Linked DNA regions of Homo sapiens: region 1 is linked to region 2. The links come from fine-mapping of genetic effects on gene expression. Tissue or cell type: whole blood. Region 2 holds a variant in brackets; the other region holds the start of a gene. All regions are shown on one strand. Distances are between the middles of the regions.

Region 1 (8,346 bases), 30 kb after region 2:
TAACCTTCAGTAATTTAGCTTTAAAAATTTTCACCTTACCTCCCCTCACACTTCTATATACATTCCCCATTTGGCCAGTCTGCTCTATTTAACATCCAAAAAACATATTCTATGCATTTCCTGTGCCATTTCCTCCATCTGGAATACATCATGTTTCTGATTCTTTGAGGTTCGTATTAAACACTGCCCCAACTGGAAGTGTTCTCACAGAAAGTTCGAGCTGAAGGAAGATCATCTCCATCTGCAAAATGAACTTTAAAAGATCATCTCCTCCATCTATGAAATCAAAATGTTTAGGGAAACTGAGGCCAAACAACAATACAAATACTTTTCTTTCTGAACATTCATTTTTTCAACATTTTTTCTTGTTTCCTATGTGCTAGTAGGAGCTGTGTCACCTACGTGGGCTTGGAGTTTTGTGAGAAAGGCTGGCTACCCATAAATTATCACACAAATAATTAAATTTGGATGAGTGCTTCAAAGAAAAGGGAAAGGACAGGGTATGTGTGATTGAGCAAAGAGGTGAGGCATAAAGTTTAGTAAGGGAAGACAGGAAAGGGGTTACTTTGGTTTGAGAGGACATCTTCCCTCAGTGGGGAAAAATCTTTTAACTCATCTATGCCTAGTGTTCCATTATTGGAACACTAAGCTTGTGGGAGTTATTTATATCCTACTGTTCAAGGTCATTGCTAAGGTCTGATATTTCACAAAAAACATTTGCAACCTCCGGTATAAATGGGTTAAGCAGGGGTGAGGGTGAAAGACGGAGTAGGAATTAACTCTGCAAAAAGGTAGATTTCCACAGGCCAAAGGAGAGCCCAGAGAAAGGTACTTTCAAGGACTTAAGGTCTGGGTGCTAGAATAAAAGGATGGGTGCAAGAGGTGAGGCTGCACAGGCAGGGAGGGATAAGAGCAAGCTGGACTGTGAAAGGTCATGTTGAAGATTTCTGGACTTTTTCCTAACAGCAAAGAGGCCTTGTATATCATGTTCCAAGAACTTCATGTCAGGACCATGGCTGATCCTGGCATGGGTAACAATGAAAAAAGCAATTACAAAATCAGAAAAAAATTCTAGTTTTATTTCAACTGAAAAACATTTCCTATATCCCTGTTACTCTTCTTTGTGTGTGTCATCTCACCCAAAATCAAGTTAAGAAAAGAAAGCATATGAATTTACAAATATAGCCATTTTCAGTTGGTCCACTTGGCTTTGACAAGAGGTCATGTATGTATACGGAGGTATGTACACTTACAGACACTTAAGGGAGTATGGGTCAGTTTCACATTTCTTAAAAGTGAAACATTTCAAGTAATAGCAATCCTTGAAAATGACTGCTATTATTTGAAATGAAAATGAAAAATGAAAAGCTCCATTCGTTGTTTGGCTATGCATTAGTGCTATGCATTATTGCTATACTGTACTTGAAGTTAAATGTTCATTCTCATGCCCTTTTCCATCAGATCCTTCATAAGGGGAAATAATTTCAAGAGAATACCAACACAATTCTTCCAAGGATTATTTTAACCTCATTGCTTTTTAGTCTCATCTTGAATATACTAAGTAATGAATTCCAAAATGCAATTACAAATTTATTTCTTCTAAAATTACATTTATATCAAGGGTAACATTTAAGGAAGATAAATGACAAAGTTATTAAAGTAAGAATGACAGCTAGAATTTTTTGAGCAATTTCTGTGTACTGGTATTGTTTTGGGAATGTTAAAATACATTATCTCATTTAATTCTAACAAGGACTCTGGAAGGTGCATGCTAATCTCTATTTCACAGATAAGGAAACTGAAGCTTAGAGAAATAAGCAAGCATTTCCCCAAATCATATACACCTTAGACCTCTGTTGTCCAATATGGCAGCCTGTGGCCACATACGGCTACTGAGCACTTGAAATGTGACTTGTTTGAATTGAGATGTGGTAGGTCAAACACATACCAAACTTTGAAGACACAGTATAAAGAAGTAAAGTACCTTATTAATAATTTTTGAATACTGACATGTCAAAATGATTCTATTTTAAATATGGTGGGTTAAATAAAATACATTAAAATTAATTCCATATATTTATGTTATTTTTAAAAAATCAGCTACTAGGAATGTTAAAATTACATATGTGGCTCACGTTATATCTCTATTGAAAAGTGCTGACCTAGACCTAAAGCTGAATACTGAATTTGACAGTAGATATCAAATACTGAAAGACTGGTAAAGAAGAGGCCACCTGCATTCACATGTCCTCTCCATCAATGATGGGAAGCCAGACGCTGGGGTTAGGATGAGGTGTAAAATACCTTACTACTACCATATTACAAAGACACACAAGTGAGGGTCCAAGAGGTTCTTATGTATACAACGGTTGAATTCTGGTGAAGAGAATTTATGAACTCTACTTCAGCTGATCAATGATCTTTTTATATCAAGAACTGAGACTAGTGAGTAAAATGATACTGGGCATGCAGAATTTTACTCTATGTTTTTCCTCTGGGTCATAGTGAAAATAAACAAATTGCTCCAATATGCTGAGTTTAGACTAACCTATTATTATAACTGAGAAAAGTAATCTGCACTAAATTACAAGAAACTACAAAATTATGTGGACCATATTATCCAATAATATTTTGCCATATTTGTTCCCTAGGCTTGTGTCAAGAAGTTAGCCATGGGTATGTGGCTTTATCAGTGTATATGTGCATCTTCATATCTTTAAGCATATATATCTAAATGTGAAGGGTGAGGCTGTTGGGGCATTTACTTAGATTATTTTTTGATGTATGCATTTGGCCTAACATTGACATGTGGCAATGTATCAGACTACCCTGCAGTTGGTTTGGTTTGTTTCTTTTTAATTGAGTGGTTGGGGGAGGGGGTAATAAGAATTTAAGTAACTTAAATGTAGCCCCTTAAATGCCATCCTCATACTAAGTTTAACACCAGAATTGTTCATCTCTTAACTATAAACATTTAACTTTAGGAAAATGATACTGGAGAAGTACAAAGCTATCAAATTTACAAATCTTAGCAGCAGAGACCACGAAAATATCTGCTTTATTCTAGTTTGGAATTTAACACAAGGATGAATAACATGCACGATTTTAGTTCAGCGATTAAAGTGCATACTCAGTTAAGGGGGGGTGGAGCAATAGAGAGAGAGCCTTCTCTTTGATCTCATAGGTTGCATTAAAAACTCACTACTCGTAATGAATTTTTGATCATCCCCTGGGTACACATAACTTGGTCCTTGCTCTTTCAAAATGAGTGGACTCAAACTGACTTACAATGTGACTGTGTCTACGGTGCACTTACAACCATCTTTCAGTAAAGGTCTTCAGATTTAGGCTCTAGGTAGAATAAGGCAGGAAAAAAAGGACACCAAAATTATCAGCAGGCATTAACTAACAAGAACTAGATGAAACAGTAATGTGTAATTAAATGATAATTAGAAAAATTTGCCAAAACTTTGAACTAAGATATTATCACATTTCTAATGCTTAAAATTACACGGAAAAATATATTCAGTGAATTTAAGAGAAAACAAACATTTTAAATCATTTATCAGCCATATTTCCAAAATGTATACTTTAGAAAAGAATTTATATATATATATAAAGGCTTATTAACATTAACTTTAAATTAGCTAATACTTGTGTCACACTTTTGAAGAAGCTTCTGTTTTGTTTCCAGGAACTGGTGGTGGTGGTGTGGTGGTGTTTTTTTTTTTTTTTTTTTTTTGGAAGGGGTTAAGGCGGCTATATTAAAAACAAAAAAACAAAAACAAACAGTTAAGCTGCATTCTTTTCCTGTGAATGGCTTATTTGTACTCCTCTGTTAATATTCTCGAAACCCCATTTAGCTTATGATGTCTTCAAATAATTTAATAATCTGTCTTTAAAGTTTTGCACTAAATTAGAGACTTAATTTTTGTAAAACGCCTTGGAACCATAAACCTTTAACGAGATGAGAAAGGTCTCCTTCCTCTGGACTTGACTTTACTGTATAGGTGTGTGAGCGATTTTTACTGTCAAACATTGCCAAGGCAGATTGTTGTTGTTCAGTCTGCAAATGTCTCGACTATACCTGCACAGTTCCTCTCTTCCCAAGACAAATCTATCCACCCCTTTCCCCCCTGCAAGTTTTAAACTTTGTTTCCTTGGGGGCTCTGTAACAAGCAATGCTAACAACGTCCAAGAGACAAAGAGCTGTTCTGTGGGCTAACACGATGCCAAATTTTAGTTGTGAAACAAAGCACTCAAATTTGAGATTGAGGAGGAGGAGCAGAATGACAATAGTAAAGCCTCCAGCTTGGAGCCACCCCCCAGAAAGCCCCTTCCCCGGAGCCCCGCGCGGGGAGTTCCAGCCCCGGGACGGTGACTCCGGGGTGCAGCCGCCAAGCCCCCGTGTGCCCTCGCTCACCGCTTCACGCGGATGATCTGGTCCCGCATGGGCTTGATGTCCTGGAAGCTCTGCTGGTTGACGAGGCTGTAGACGAGGATGAAGCCCTGGCCGTTCTTGATGTACAGGTCCCGCATGGACGCGAACTGCTCGGTGCCCGCCGTGTCCAGGATCTCCAGCACCGACGGCGACGAATCCACCTCGATCTCCTTGCGGTAGAAGTCCTCGATGGTGGGGTCGTATTTCTCGATGAAGGTGCCGGTCACGAACTGCACGGTCAGGGCGGATTTGCCTACCCCGCCCGAGCCCAGCACCACCACTTTGTACTCGCGCATCGTCCCTCCGCGGCCGCCGCCGCCGCCGCCGCCCGCGACATAGACCTACGCCGGCCGCGCTGCGCCCCCAGCCCCGGCCCCGGCGGCCCGCCCCGCCGCCTCCCGCTGCCGCCCCCACCTCACAGCCGCGGCGGCCCCCTGGGCGCCGGCGGCGGCGGCGGCAACTGAGGGAGCAGCGGCCCTGGGCATGGGCCGGGCCGAGCCGGGCGGCGATGCGGCCCCGTAGGCACCGGGTGGGACTGAGGGCGAGCAGAGAGAGAGACCGGGAGCCGCTGGTGCCGCCCGAGCCGCGGGCCCGCAGTGCCGCCCGCCCCGCCCCTCGCGCCTCCACGCCCAGATCCCCGCCCGCCGCCGCCGCCGCCGCCGCCGCTACCCCCAGCGCTCGAGCGCGCGCCCGAGCCCCAGCCGCAGCGCGGCCAGGGGCGGGGTCCGGCGGCCGGGGCGGAGCCCGCGGCGCAGCCCCGCCCCCGCCCCCTAGGCGACGGGCCGCGAGCGCTCCCGAGAGGCTTTGCGGGGCTCGGAAGCTTCTGCCCGCGCGGAGATAAACAAGCACCGCGACCGCCGAGCAGCGCCGAACCCAGCGCGCCCAGTCAGACCCCAGGGCCTGTGTACCGAGCATGCGCAGTTCCCGCCCAAGCCAGGAGCAGCGTCAACCTGAGACTCCCGAGACATTAAGAATTCGGAAGGGATGAGATGGTAGAGGGGCTAGAGCTACCTCCAAGCTTTATCCTGAGGCGGGGAGTGAAGGAGAGATGCCCAAGGCCCAAGAGGGGCCGCGAGGGCCTTTGTCCGATGCCACCCAGTCTGTCAGCACTCCTAGAGCTTTGGTTTTATCTTGTATTAGCATGTGAAGCTTTAAGGGGGGGGCACCTACAGGCTTCTGACTGAAGTTGTGTAAACGCAACAAAATGAAGCTTTGGAGCGTTAGGACATTGATGGGAGGGTGACGCCCCCCTCTAGCAGCGCGCCAGAGGGGCGAGTCAGAGGCGGCCACACACCACGGAAGTCGGGTCCAAGCCCGCTGACGTCGCCGGGGTCCCGCCCACCAACCCTCTGGACCCGCCCACATTTCTTCTAGACCCGCCCCTTTCGGTGCCGAACTGAAGTCGAGCTCTTCCCACGCCCTGTCAGCCACGGGTGAGTTGAAAACCTGGAGAGCGGAATCCCGAACGGCAGCCGGAAGGCCCTGGACTCCTCATAGCAACAGCCAGCTAGGGGCATCTAGTGGGAAGCTGGGATTCATTCTAGCCAACCACATCACGTCTCTGTACCACAAGGTACCATTCACGACCAATAAGAGAGCGCCCCCATACCACGTGCCTTTACTCCTTCAACCAATCGAGAAAAACGCTAGTCGTAGGATCCGCAAGCCCACCTCCCAGTGCCTTGCCAGGCGGGGCTCTTCGCGCACGCTCTGCCAACCAATCGTAGGTGAGCTGGCGAGTGACGGAAGCTTCGGCCAAGCCAACCAGAGCTCGCGAGCCCCTTGCCACCGAGGCCGGCGGGATGGAGACAGGGACCGGCTGCTGGGGTTTGGGAGGGGCAGAGATTGAGGAGCCAGTTGCTGTGCCCTGTTCTGGCAAAAGAACAAGATGCGTTGCAAGCCAGAATGATGAATTCCACTTTTCACGTCGCCTCCGTGGCATTCTGCCTAAATGATGGGCATGGAAATGGTGCTGAGGGATGTGGGCTGAATCGAGAACACAGGGACTTTTGTCTTCAGGGTGAGAAATGTTCCGGTCCTTAAGGAAACATCGTGCAGCAGTTGCATGGGTCTTCCAGGCGTTCCTCCCAAAACATTATTTTTTTTCTTTCACTATTGAGTTTTAAAACTTAGCGTTCTGTCGCTAGCATTGCATCTTAGTTACACATCCTCTCCCACCCATAACGTCAAATTTAGGAGACGATACATCCCCAAGCTTTCCTGCATTATTTTTTGCAGTAACTGGTTATTCAGTTTACTTTCTTTAAACTATGTCCTTCTCAAACTAGTCTCACCTGTTCGTTACTGTCGCACATTTCCTGCGAATAACACGTTTCTGTAGTTCTGTTGTTAGAGCCTGGCATACCTCTCCCCGTTCCTCTTTCCCACAAGGTCATCATGCAGAGGGGATTTTGGTCTGAGTTAAAAGCCAGGTATTCTTTCACCATCTTTTCTGTCGATAGTCAAACTACTACAAAGACTACTCAAATTTAGTAGTTTCTTATTTCCCTATAGCTTCGTTATATTAGAATGGATAACTTATATTTGCATTACCTTGCTGTAATGAACACACACCAAGTTTTCATTTAAAATTATCAAGGACAAATGTCCTCTGAATTTAAAAATGTGTATGTAGTAAAATATAACTCAGCATTTCTTGATTACATATCATTAAAATATGAATGGTACTATCTGAGCCACCAGAATCAGCAGTGAAGGTATTATATTAATAAAAAGGACTAAGAATCAGGACTGTTTTAAGGGAACTGGAACCGAAGAGGATCTACTATTTCATCCTAGGCTAGTTAACATGAAATAGTGAATTAAAATTGAAAGAGCTTACATGGATGCTTCATATCTGAGCTACTTTGGCAGGGATGTTTCAAGAGGATGTAGGTAAGTATGGTGTTCACCTAGCTTTCCAGAAGTCTCATATTTTGTGTAAAATTGGTATGCTTATTCATGGTTACTTTGGGTTAGTAGAAGCTATACTTCTTTTCCAAGGAAAGACAGACTGTCTTAAGATTCTAACTGTGCATCTTGGTGATAAGAAGTTCTTAGGGTTGTTAAATAGAGCCAGGAAGCGTGAAGCTTTCTCTCTAGATCATGACAACTCATCTAGTACCTTGCATTACAAAGGAGCTCTAAGTCCATTTACTTTGCAAGGAATGAAGTTCCAGTGATTAATGTTTTTGAGAAATTTGTATTGGGATTGTGGGGTCCAGAAGGTTGCCTTAAGTAACTGTTTTCATGACTCCTAGGTCCCTAGATGTTGAGAAGCTCTGGATTGAAGCTGTCACAAAAATAGTGAGTGGGCTCCGTAGTCACTCCATTTAGCATAATACAGAGTAGGACAGCTTTGTGACATTTCTCAGGCTATTTCCCCTGACCTCTCATCAATGCTGACGTTTTTGATAAGAAGGGGTATAGAGACTGCAGCCCTTGGGGTGGTTACAGTTCATTTATTTACAGGCCTTATATTGACAGGCCTCAGATTTCATGCTCAGTACCATAAAGGTTGATTTTTAACCACCAAGAGGCAAAAGAAACATGACAGGTCGGAGCATATTTTCTCACCTATTCTGGCTTAAATGATGGTACTTACCTGATTTGTGGTTGTAGGTGAAATGTTGGGTGAAAGATTAGCTGCTATAAAAAGGATGTCAGGACGTGTAGAGAATTTAGAGGACTTGGGTGGGAGATGGATGTCTATTTTCTAACCCCTTAGTCATGTTCATTCCGATGCCAGCATAAACTCTATTTTGAGATGATTATAGAAATAACTTATATCTTCATTTGTTTGTGGGAAATAAAAAATAAAAATGATATAAAAGAAATTTGAATTATTCCCAAGAGCTGTAAATCTGTAAGATAGTGAAAACTTAACGCAGTAACTGACACTGCAG
Region 2 (8,346 bases):
ATAGGCCAGGCATGGTGGCTCACGCCTGTGATCCCAGCACTTTGGGAGGCCAAGGTGGGAGGATCACAAGGTCAGGAGATCGAGACCATCCTGGCTAACATGGTGAAACCCCGTCTCTACTAAAAAATACAAAAAATTAGCCAGGCATGGTGATGGGCACCTGTGGTCCCAGCTACTTGGGAGGCTGAGGCAGGAGAGTGGTGTGAACCCGGGAGGGAGCTTGCAGTGAGCAAAGATCACACCACTGCACTCCAGCCTGGGTGACAGAGCGAGACTGTCTCAAAAACAAACAAAAAAACCACAAAAACTATTTATGAAAATATTTATTAAAAATACTAGATAATATTCAACGATGTAAAACCAGTTGGAATGATCCATTTAAGAGATGAAGAGCAACTATGTTTTATTAGTATTTATGTGGCAACATATTTTAAATTAAGAAACGAGGTCAACAGCTTCTTTCAGAAGTTTGTGGTAATATTCTCTGCTTCATAGATCCTAGAGGTCAGTTGGGTTCCAAATTGGGCAGCACCTTACTCCTTTAGCTACATATATTTTCATTCGTGGACCTCTAACAGACAAATAATATAACTTGAGAGAATTTCAGAGTACTACTTTTTAGCCTCAAAGACGTTCTTCCAACTATCCACTATTGATACATTTAAATAATTTATTAAAAAATTTACAAACACTTCAAATAAAATTATGAAGTTCTTCAGAAGATATTCCTAAAATATAGGCATGTTTTCCTTTAAATATCTGGGATTCTATCTACAGTGCCTCTGTTATATTCATTCAAATTATTCTTATAATCTAAAACAATGAAGCTTCTCAACTGGTGGAATGCTGCCAGAGGATTTCAACAGAGTTTGAAGGCAACATAACCAAAAGGCATAGTTTAAATTGGCTTAGGAAATGAATGGGCTCCTTATCAGAGCAGCTGAAGGCTGTATACAATTAACAGCATCTGTCAACTTTCATAGGGCCCCATATAGAACAAGCAGGCCCTACAGCCTGGCGGCAACCTTCAGCTTCTGGCACCTTCGGATCCACATGACCTGAAAACAGAAAGACGGCTTCAAGCCATCACTAGAAGGCCTCTGAATCATTTTAGTGATATTGCTAATTAATGTTAATTATTTGAACAATTCTGTTAACCTTAGCATCAGGCTTTAAATTAACCAGCTACCATTCAAAATATAAAATCATTTGTAGAGATAAGTTTATATTTATAATAACTGATTTTACAGTCTCTTACATGTTATTTTTATTTTTAAAGACTATGAAAATTATCTACCTACCTGCCTTTTTATATGATGAACTCTCAAATCAGCTAAAATATTTTTGTATGAAGAGTACTAAATTCATTATATGGCAATTTTTAATTGTTTTTGTATATAATACATTTCTCTCATGAGCATGTACAAAACAAAGCAAATCCAGAGTTTCATTAAATAAATTTATTTGTTAAAATAATTTAACTCCAAATACAACTGTTGAATTTGCATTGAGTTATAACTACAATTCATGTTTTAATTGAAATGTCAAGGTTTAACAACTGACATTGTTACAAAACAATAAACTTGTTCAATTTTAAATGGTCAGTTGTATTAGAGCGCAACAATTAACTGTGAACTATATCTCTGGGAAACCTCAAATCAATAATGATAAGTCTGTTTCCAAAACCCACTGCAGTCATTCTTGAAACCCTGATCAAGATTTAATAGATGAACAATGACATGTTAAATAAAAAAAAAAAGACCTCCATAGTCCTTAATGTTTGATTGGCTAAGGGACAATTAAAGCTTACCCAGTGCTAACACAAGACTGCTGATAAGAACAAAAAAATTAAAAACACACACATAAACAAAAAACAGCAACAAACAAAACAAAGCACTTTCATATTCATACATACACTGACAACATTAACATTCATACTGGAAAACCCTTGAAAAGAAATACCAGACAGCCTTAGGCAACATTTCTTTATATAGAAAAGCAAATATCAGTAGTATTACCACAGAAAGGTGATGGCAACTGTAGCAATTTGAGTCAAAAGTTCAGTCCTAATTCTACAAACCAAAGGAGAAAATCATCAAAGCACCTTTCAATAGTTTAAGAAAATATTTTATGTAATACTTTTGATCAGATGCTGGCTTGTTTTGTATAAGTTGAACAAAATGAAAGGCATCAGTTACCATCACTATCACAGTTTAAAAGAACCCAAAAGTTGCAACATCAAAAGAAAAAAAAATTCAAAGATGCTGCCTTTGTATAAAAGTAAAAAAAAGAAAATCTTATCACAAGAGCTAAAGAAAAAGTGGGTCTTTGGATCAAACCATAATATTTTTAAGGCATGTTAGAAAAACTTTCACTTATCTAAGTTGCTAGTCTGATCAGGGCATAAAATAAATAGTGACACAAGGTCAACTTTCTTCTGTAGCCACTAAGGTTTCGTATGCCAACAAATGTAATCTTCCTGTTCTTAAGTGTTTTATTACTGTAATATCTCAACAAACACATTCATTTGCCAGCTGAGTTATATATTCATACCAGATGGATATGAATTTCCAGTTTCGGGATGTCCTTGATGCCTTGGTCACTAAATATGCAGGGCTGCGTGGAAACACTCATCAGGCAGCCAGATCAGTTCTTATTCATGTCTTGACAGTAAAAGCCCACCCTGTCATCTGACACAAATGTTTTTAACTATTAATACAACTCAAAATTTTAGGTCATCTTTTCCACTTTACATTCTGCCATATCTTTCATATTATTTAACCTATTTTCACATCTGCATAGCAAGCCATAATGTCAAACTGTGGAATCTTTATAGATATTTCTATTTTGCAATCTTACTTGTCAAAAATTGCTATGAATTATAGAATTCTAAAGAATCATTCTGAGAAGTTAGAGGAATCAAAACTCAACCAATTCACTAACAAATATTTTTATTTCCATAGAGAAATCATATATCTTGAATCTACAACTTCTCTACATGTTTGAATCAAACCAACTTTTACACAGTGAAATTCGTTTCAATAAAATTGGTTAAATTTTTTTGTCCTATAAACAAGGTGGTTCATAATTGAGGATTATAAAAAATTATACTGAAGAATGTAAATATTCAAAAGTCAAAGATTTATGACAGCTATGGCCTGGTTTCATTCACGTATCTCTTCAGTTTTTTCATTATGAAAAATACTATCAATCTTTTTTTTTTTTTTCACCCTCTAAGCTTAATGCCAGTTATTAAACACTTGGGGGGCTACCAATGATTTCATAAAAGTATAAAAGACACTTTAATAATTTAAAAGAAAAAAGTTTTTGATACACTATATTCTGCAGTATAGATTCTTAGTATAGGCAATTATCTCTGACTTGTGCCAAATTCTTAGGAACAATAAACACACATGCACACACAAACACACACTCTTCTCTCAGTTACACACGTAAGACCAGAGGTTACTTGCACAAGACTGTGAAACCAACAAAATGTGGGGTGGTGTATAGATCGCAGGCTCAGTGATATTGCAGTTCTGAAGGCCAAATTCTTCTCCCAAGGCCCAGCTCAAGATAATCTTTTCAGCATTTATGTATAACTAAGTTAGCTGAAGACCCCTCTATACTTGATTGTAAAACTTATGAATAGGTTTTTCCTGTGCCATTAGTCATGCAAATGATAAATACTTCACGACTATGAAAACCAAAAATGTCAGAGCTTGAGCACCTTTTCAAAACAAAATTTTCACTCCAGCTTTATTTGACGCTTCAGTAATCAGGGCAAAATTGTTCTAAGAAAACCTTTATATAATTCTCCAGGAAAATTAAAGGTAAAAGGCTTTTGTCCCTTACCTTCCACTCTATAATTTATGTTCACTTTTAAGCCCAAATTATTTCACATGGTTATTCAATTTTTAAAATGCCTGCAATAAAGCTCTGCTACAGCAAATACTTGATTTTGAAAGCAGGTTAGCCACGGGTCACACTACAACCATAGCCCTTAAAGGCGAGAAGGAATTTGCTGCTTTAATGAACTTAAAAATGCCAGATATTCGTACTGTCCTGTGAGGTTTCTGCAAACGGGAACATGTGGATGCAACATGGCTTCATCTTCCTTACATGATGGTACTAGTTTATCTATTAGAATGCTTCTTGTTAGTAAGGCTAGGTAATCTCTTCCCATCACAGTTGCTTCCCTCTTGTTCAGTAAAGTTATAAAGACCACCCCTAACAGAGGGCGGGTTTGGGGTTTTAATTCTGATCAAACCCTTGTGAAAGCCTCCATTTTCTGTGGCAAAGCAGGTGAATTAACAAATTCTAAAGCCAGACTATATTTTTACATAACCTGTTCTGAGTTTTGCTCTATCAAGGATTGAAGCATGAGTTAGTTCCATGTCACAAATTAGAATAACAGCTACAATTAAGCATCAATTTTGAAAAACAGAAATGTGTTAGCTGAGCAAAGAATCTCCCTGTAATGCTGTTGGCAGGTCAGCTGTTATTATCTTACTTGACGGAATACA[T/C]TGGTTAGAAGCTCTATCCCATTTCCTGAAATTCAGTACTCTTGTAGGAAAATATTTCTCCTTTACTTATTTTTTTAAAGAAGACAAAATATTTTAATTGTAAGTGGTCAGAGGAATTCTTCTGGTTTCTCCCTTATGGTTATTTTTAATTTGTACAATAGTTGCTTCTGTCAACTCAGCGACAATGCCATCATAGCTTTCAAATGAGATCACCCTGTAGATCGATGGACTATGCCTTAAAGTTGCAGATGCATAAAGGAGACTGAGGACAAATGGTGAAAACTGTAGTTACTGAACCCAAATGTTACTCAGAGATATCAACTGACAATCACTGCTCAATTCTGAATAAGGGCTGCAGTTCTCTGTAGATTAACACCACGCATTCTGCAAGTTCTGCAGTGGAGTAGGCGAGTTTTCTATCACCTACGACATTGGGCAAATCCCATCCAGGACAGCCATATTTGGATGCTATTGTATGTTACATGCAGAACAGCATGGGTCATCTTTGTCAGGCTGAGCAGCATAGTTCATCTGCCTCACAATTTCTGCAAAGAGTTCGTCCACCATTGTTTTACTCTTAGCGGAAGTTTCCATAAAGGGGCAGCCCCACTCTTCAGCAAGGGCTCTGCCTTCGCTGGACGATACTTCTCTCTCACTTTCCAGGTCCACTTTGTTCCCAACCAAGATGACTGGCACTTTCTCATACCTATGAGAGAATAAACAAAACACACATACATTGTAACAGTTAGCACAAAGTTAAACAGGTCACGTGTATTTTCGTTTTTGGGGGCTATTCCAACATAAATGGTATCTTCAGTTGCATGAAAATGATTTGTACCACTTGGCTTGATACTTAGATCTGAGGGCATTTGAAGCTGCTCTCACAGTGGATGATAAAATGAGTTTTATGAAATGATGTTTTAATTAATCAATTATATATCCTTTAAAATCAATTTACCTTTCCAGATATACTTGGAAAATTATTCTCAGAAACTCAGACTAAATCCTCTTTTTTTTCCATTCTGAGAGAGGGTTGCACAAAATTTCACAGTTGATCACACAGTAAATAGCTACAATGAGTAAACAAACAACTTATAATTATCAGCATTTTACTATGTTCTATGTGTATAAAATTGATCATGTTCATACAAAAATCAGCTGGGTGTGGTGGCAGGTGCCTGTAGTTCCAGCTACTCGGGAGGCTGAGACAGGAGAATCGCTTGAACCTGGGAGGCAGAGGTTGCAGTGAGCTGAGATCGTGCCACCGCACTCCAGCTTGAAAAAATGATCATGTTCGTTCTAATAGTTCTCAAACAAGAAAAAAGGTAGTAGAAATCATCCAAATGGAAGCTATCAAATACAACCACACCCCATCCCTTCAGAAAACTTTTATGGATTAGTCAGTTCAAAGAGAAACAATTAGGATTCTTTTAAGACTGACAAGAATTCAGCCTCAATTAGCTTTAATTGGTGTTATTTCTCTTTTTCTTCCTAACTAAAATAGGTATCTCTGAGTAAACACGTTTGGAAAAAGCTAAACTAATAAAAATAGTAAGTGATAAGAAAGAACAAAGAAAGAAGCTCCTAAGTCATTTTGGTGCCTAAGATGATTGTCTCTACAATGGTTACTCCATGTAGCACATTTCACAACAGATGTCAACACTGGTGCTGGACTGCACATTTATTTACTATTCTTCTTTATGTTTGTTCTAAGAAAGATAGCTAATATATTTTCACAAGACATTTTAAAAGGTTTTTGTGATTTTAGTATAAATCTGTGTGTGTGTGTGTTTGTGTGTGTGTGTCTTCCCATAAGCAGAATGTATTTCTGATTTAAAGGAGCTAAACAGCAAGATCGCACAAAAGTGATAACAAATGTGACTGGAAACAGCTAAATCTGTCAGAAGAGAAAACCACCCCATGGTCAAGCCTTTGAGGCAGGATGCATAGACAATTTTTATCATTCAGGAAACTGGATAATAGGCAGGTGGTTATTGTTCGCTATGATACTTCCACAGATTTCTTCATCCTGTCAAGAGGGTTCTCTCCACTCATCCTAACTTGTAAAGCAAACCAAATTCCCAACATTCTCACTTTTTTTCTTTGACACTATATCAAACTAAGAATGGTCTCAACAAGAGGGCATACTCCAGGTAGTGTGCCATTTGGCAATGTGAAACATGAAAACAACTTAAAAATGAGTGGAAGGAACAACATCAAAGGCAAACCTAGAATTTGGATATTATCATTTTATAGGAAATGAATTTGGACAACTTCAATTTATATCAAAGGACTTTATATAAATTTACTGTACACTACTGTACCTTACGATTTCGGGCCTTAGATCATGCTGACAGCTCTGAACATAAGACACAAGGGTTTTTAACATCTTCTAGGACTCTTACATACAAACAATTTGTGCATCCCATGGCCTCTAGGAGGGCAAGTGGCAGTGAGAATAAAGCTGCATTACAAAACACCATGTATTTGCTACTTTGCATATAAACTCTCTTGATTGGCTATACAGAGAAGCTTGGCAGGGAGCAGACACTGCCAGCCATGTCAGGACAATGTCAGCTTCCAATTTGTGTTACTTGCAAAATGTAATTACATTTCGTTTTTCTTATGAAAGTATATACATCACAGTGTACTTTAAAATGCTTTGCTTGACAGTGGAGTAACTTAAAAACATTAATAAAATTAAGTAAAACATTGGTTGAATTTAAGTTAAAACAAATTTCAGTCTGTCTATGAATAATAAAAAGTGATAAGATCACTTTCTATTAGTTGAGATAAATGATAAATATTTTAAAGAATGTTTAAATACAATATATATAATATATAAATATATATATAAATATATATATAAATATATATAAATATATAAATATCTATATAAATATATAAATATAAATATATAAATATATATATATATATATTTTTTTTTTGAGACGGAGTCTCGCTCTGTCTCCCAGGCTGGAGTGCAGTGGCATGATCTTTGCTCACTGCAAGCTCCGCCTCCCGGGTTCACGCCATTCTCTTGCCTCAGTCTCCTGAGTACCTGGGACTACAGGCGCCCACCACCACGCCCGACTAATTTTTTGTATATTTAGTAGAGACAGGGTTTCATCGTGTTAGCTAGGATGGTCTCGATCTCCTGACCTCGTGATCCGCCCGCCTCAGCCTCCCAAAGTGCTGGGATTACAGGCGTGAGCCACCGCACCCAGCCTGTATCATGTTTTATATGTGAAATATTTCTTACACTTTTAGTTAAGTTCAGGATCTACTAGAATATGTGGATTTTCAAAACTTGCAAATAAATCAAATTATTAAGTTGTATTGATACATTATTAAAATCAAGAATTTGAATAAATCTTACCATCAACCTAATTCTCAAAACAGTAAATAAAATATTGCAAACACAGTTCCACATATAACAGCATTTAATAACTGGTAAATGTAGATGAAAATGCAGTCAGTATCAGAGGACCTGTTTATTATATCACTAACTTGTCAGTGGCCTTTTCTAAAATCAAGTTTCTAAAGACACTAGAGAAATCCACATTAATATCCTCAGAAGATTTTTAAACTGAGTACGATGTTGAGAAAAATTATGTACATTTCAGAATACCAGACGGTGATAAATTTTGTCTCTCTGTTAAAATTTGGGACAGTAGAAAAGATTCTACACCCAGATTTGGAGGCTCTGCTTCCAGTTCTGCCAATGAGATCATTTCCTTTACATATCTGTATTTCATTTCTTTGATAGTAAAAAGGGAGTAAGAGTATCTGTTCCCACTTAACACAGGGTTGCTGTAAA

Evidence for each region.
Region 1: it holds the start of RAP2A, and the variant in region 2 is fine-mapped to the expression of RAP2A in whole blood (INTERVAL, PIP above 0.99).

Annotation. Positions count from the first base shown.
Region 1 is chr13:97,430,862-97,439,207 of GRCh38, reverse strand. It overlaps RAP2A (RAP2A, member of RAS oncogene family), which reads right to left and starts at 5,039. Exons shown (of 2, transcript NM_021033.7): 1 at 4,424-5,039. The coding sequence starts at 4,737. RefSeq lists silencers at 818-1,011, 4,863-4,922, 4,943-5,302 and enhancers at 5,453-5,502, 5,523-5,652, 4,924-5,855, 5,803-5,942.
Region 2 is chr13:97,461,091-97,469,436 of GRCh38, reverse strand. It overlaps RAP2A (RAP2A, member of RAS oncogene family), which reads right to left. Exons shown (of 2, transcript NM_021033.7): 2 at 309-5,232. The coding sequence ends at 4,995. Among named protein-coding and RNA genes, the nearest start is that of RAP2A, 31 kb to the right of the region's middle. The variant T/C (reference allele first, on the strand shown) is at 4,527.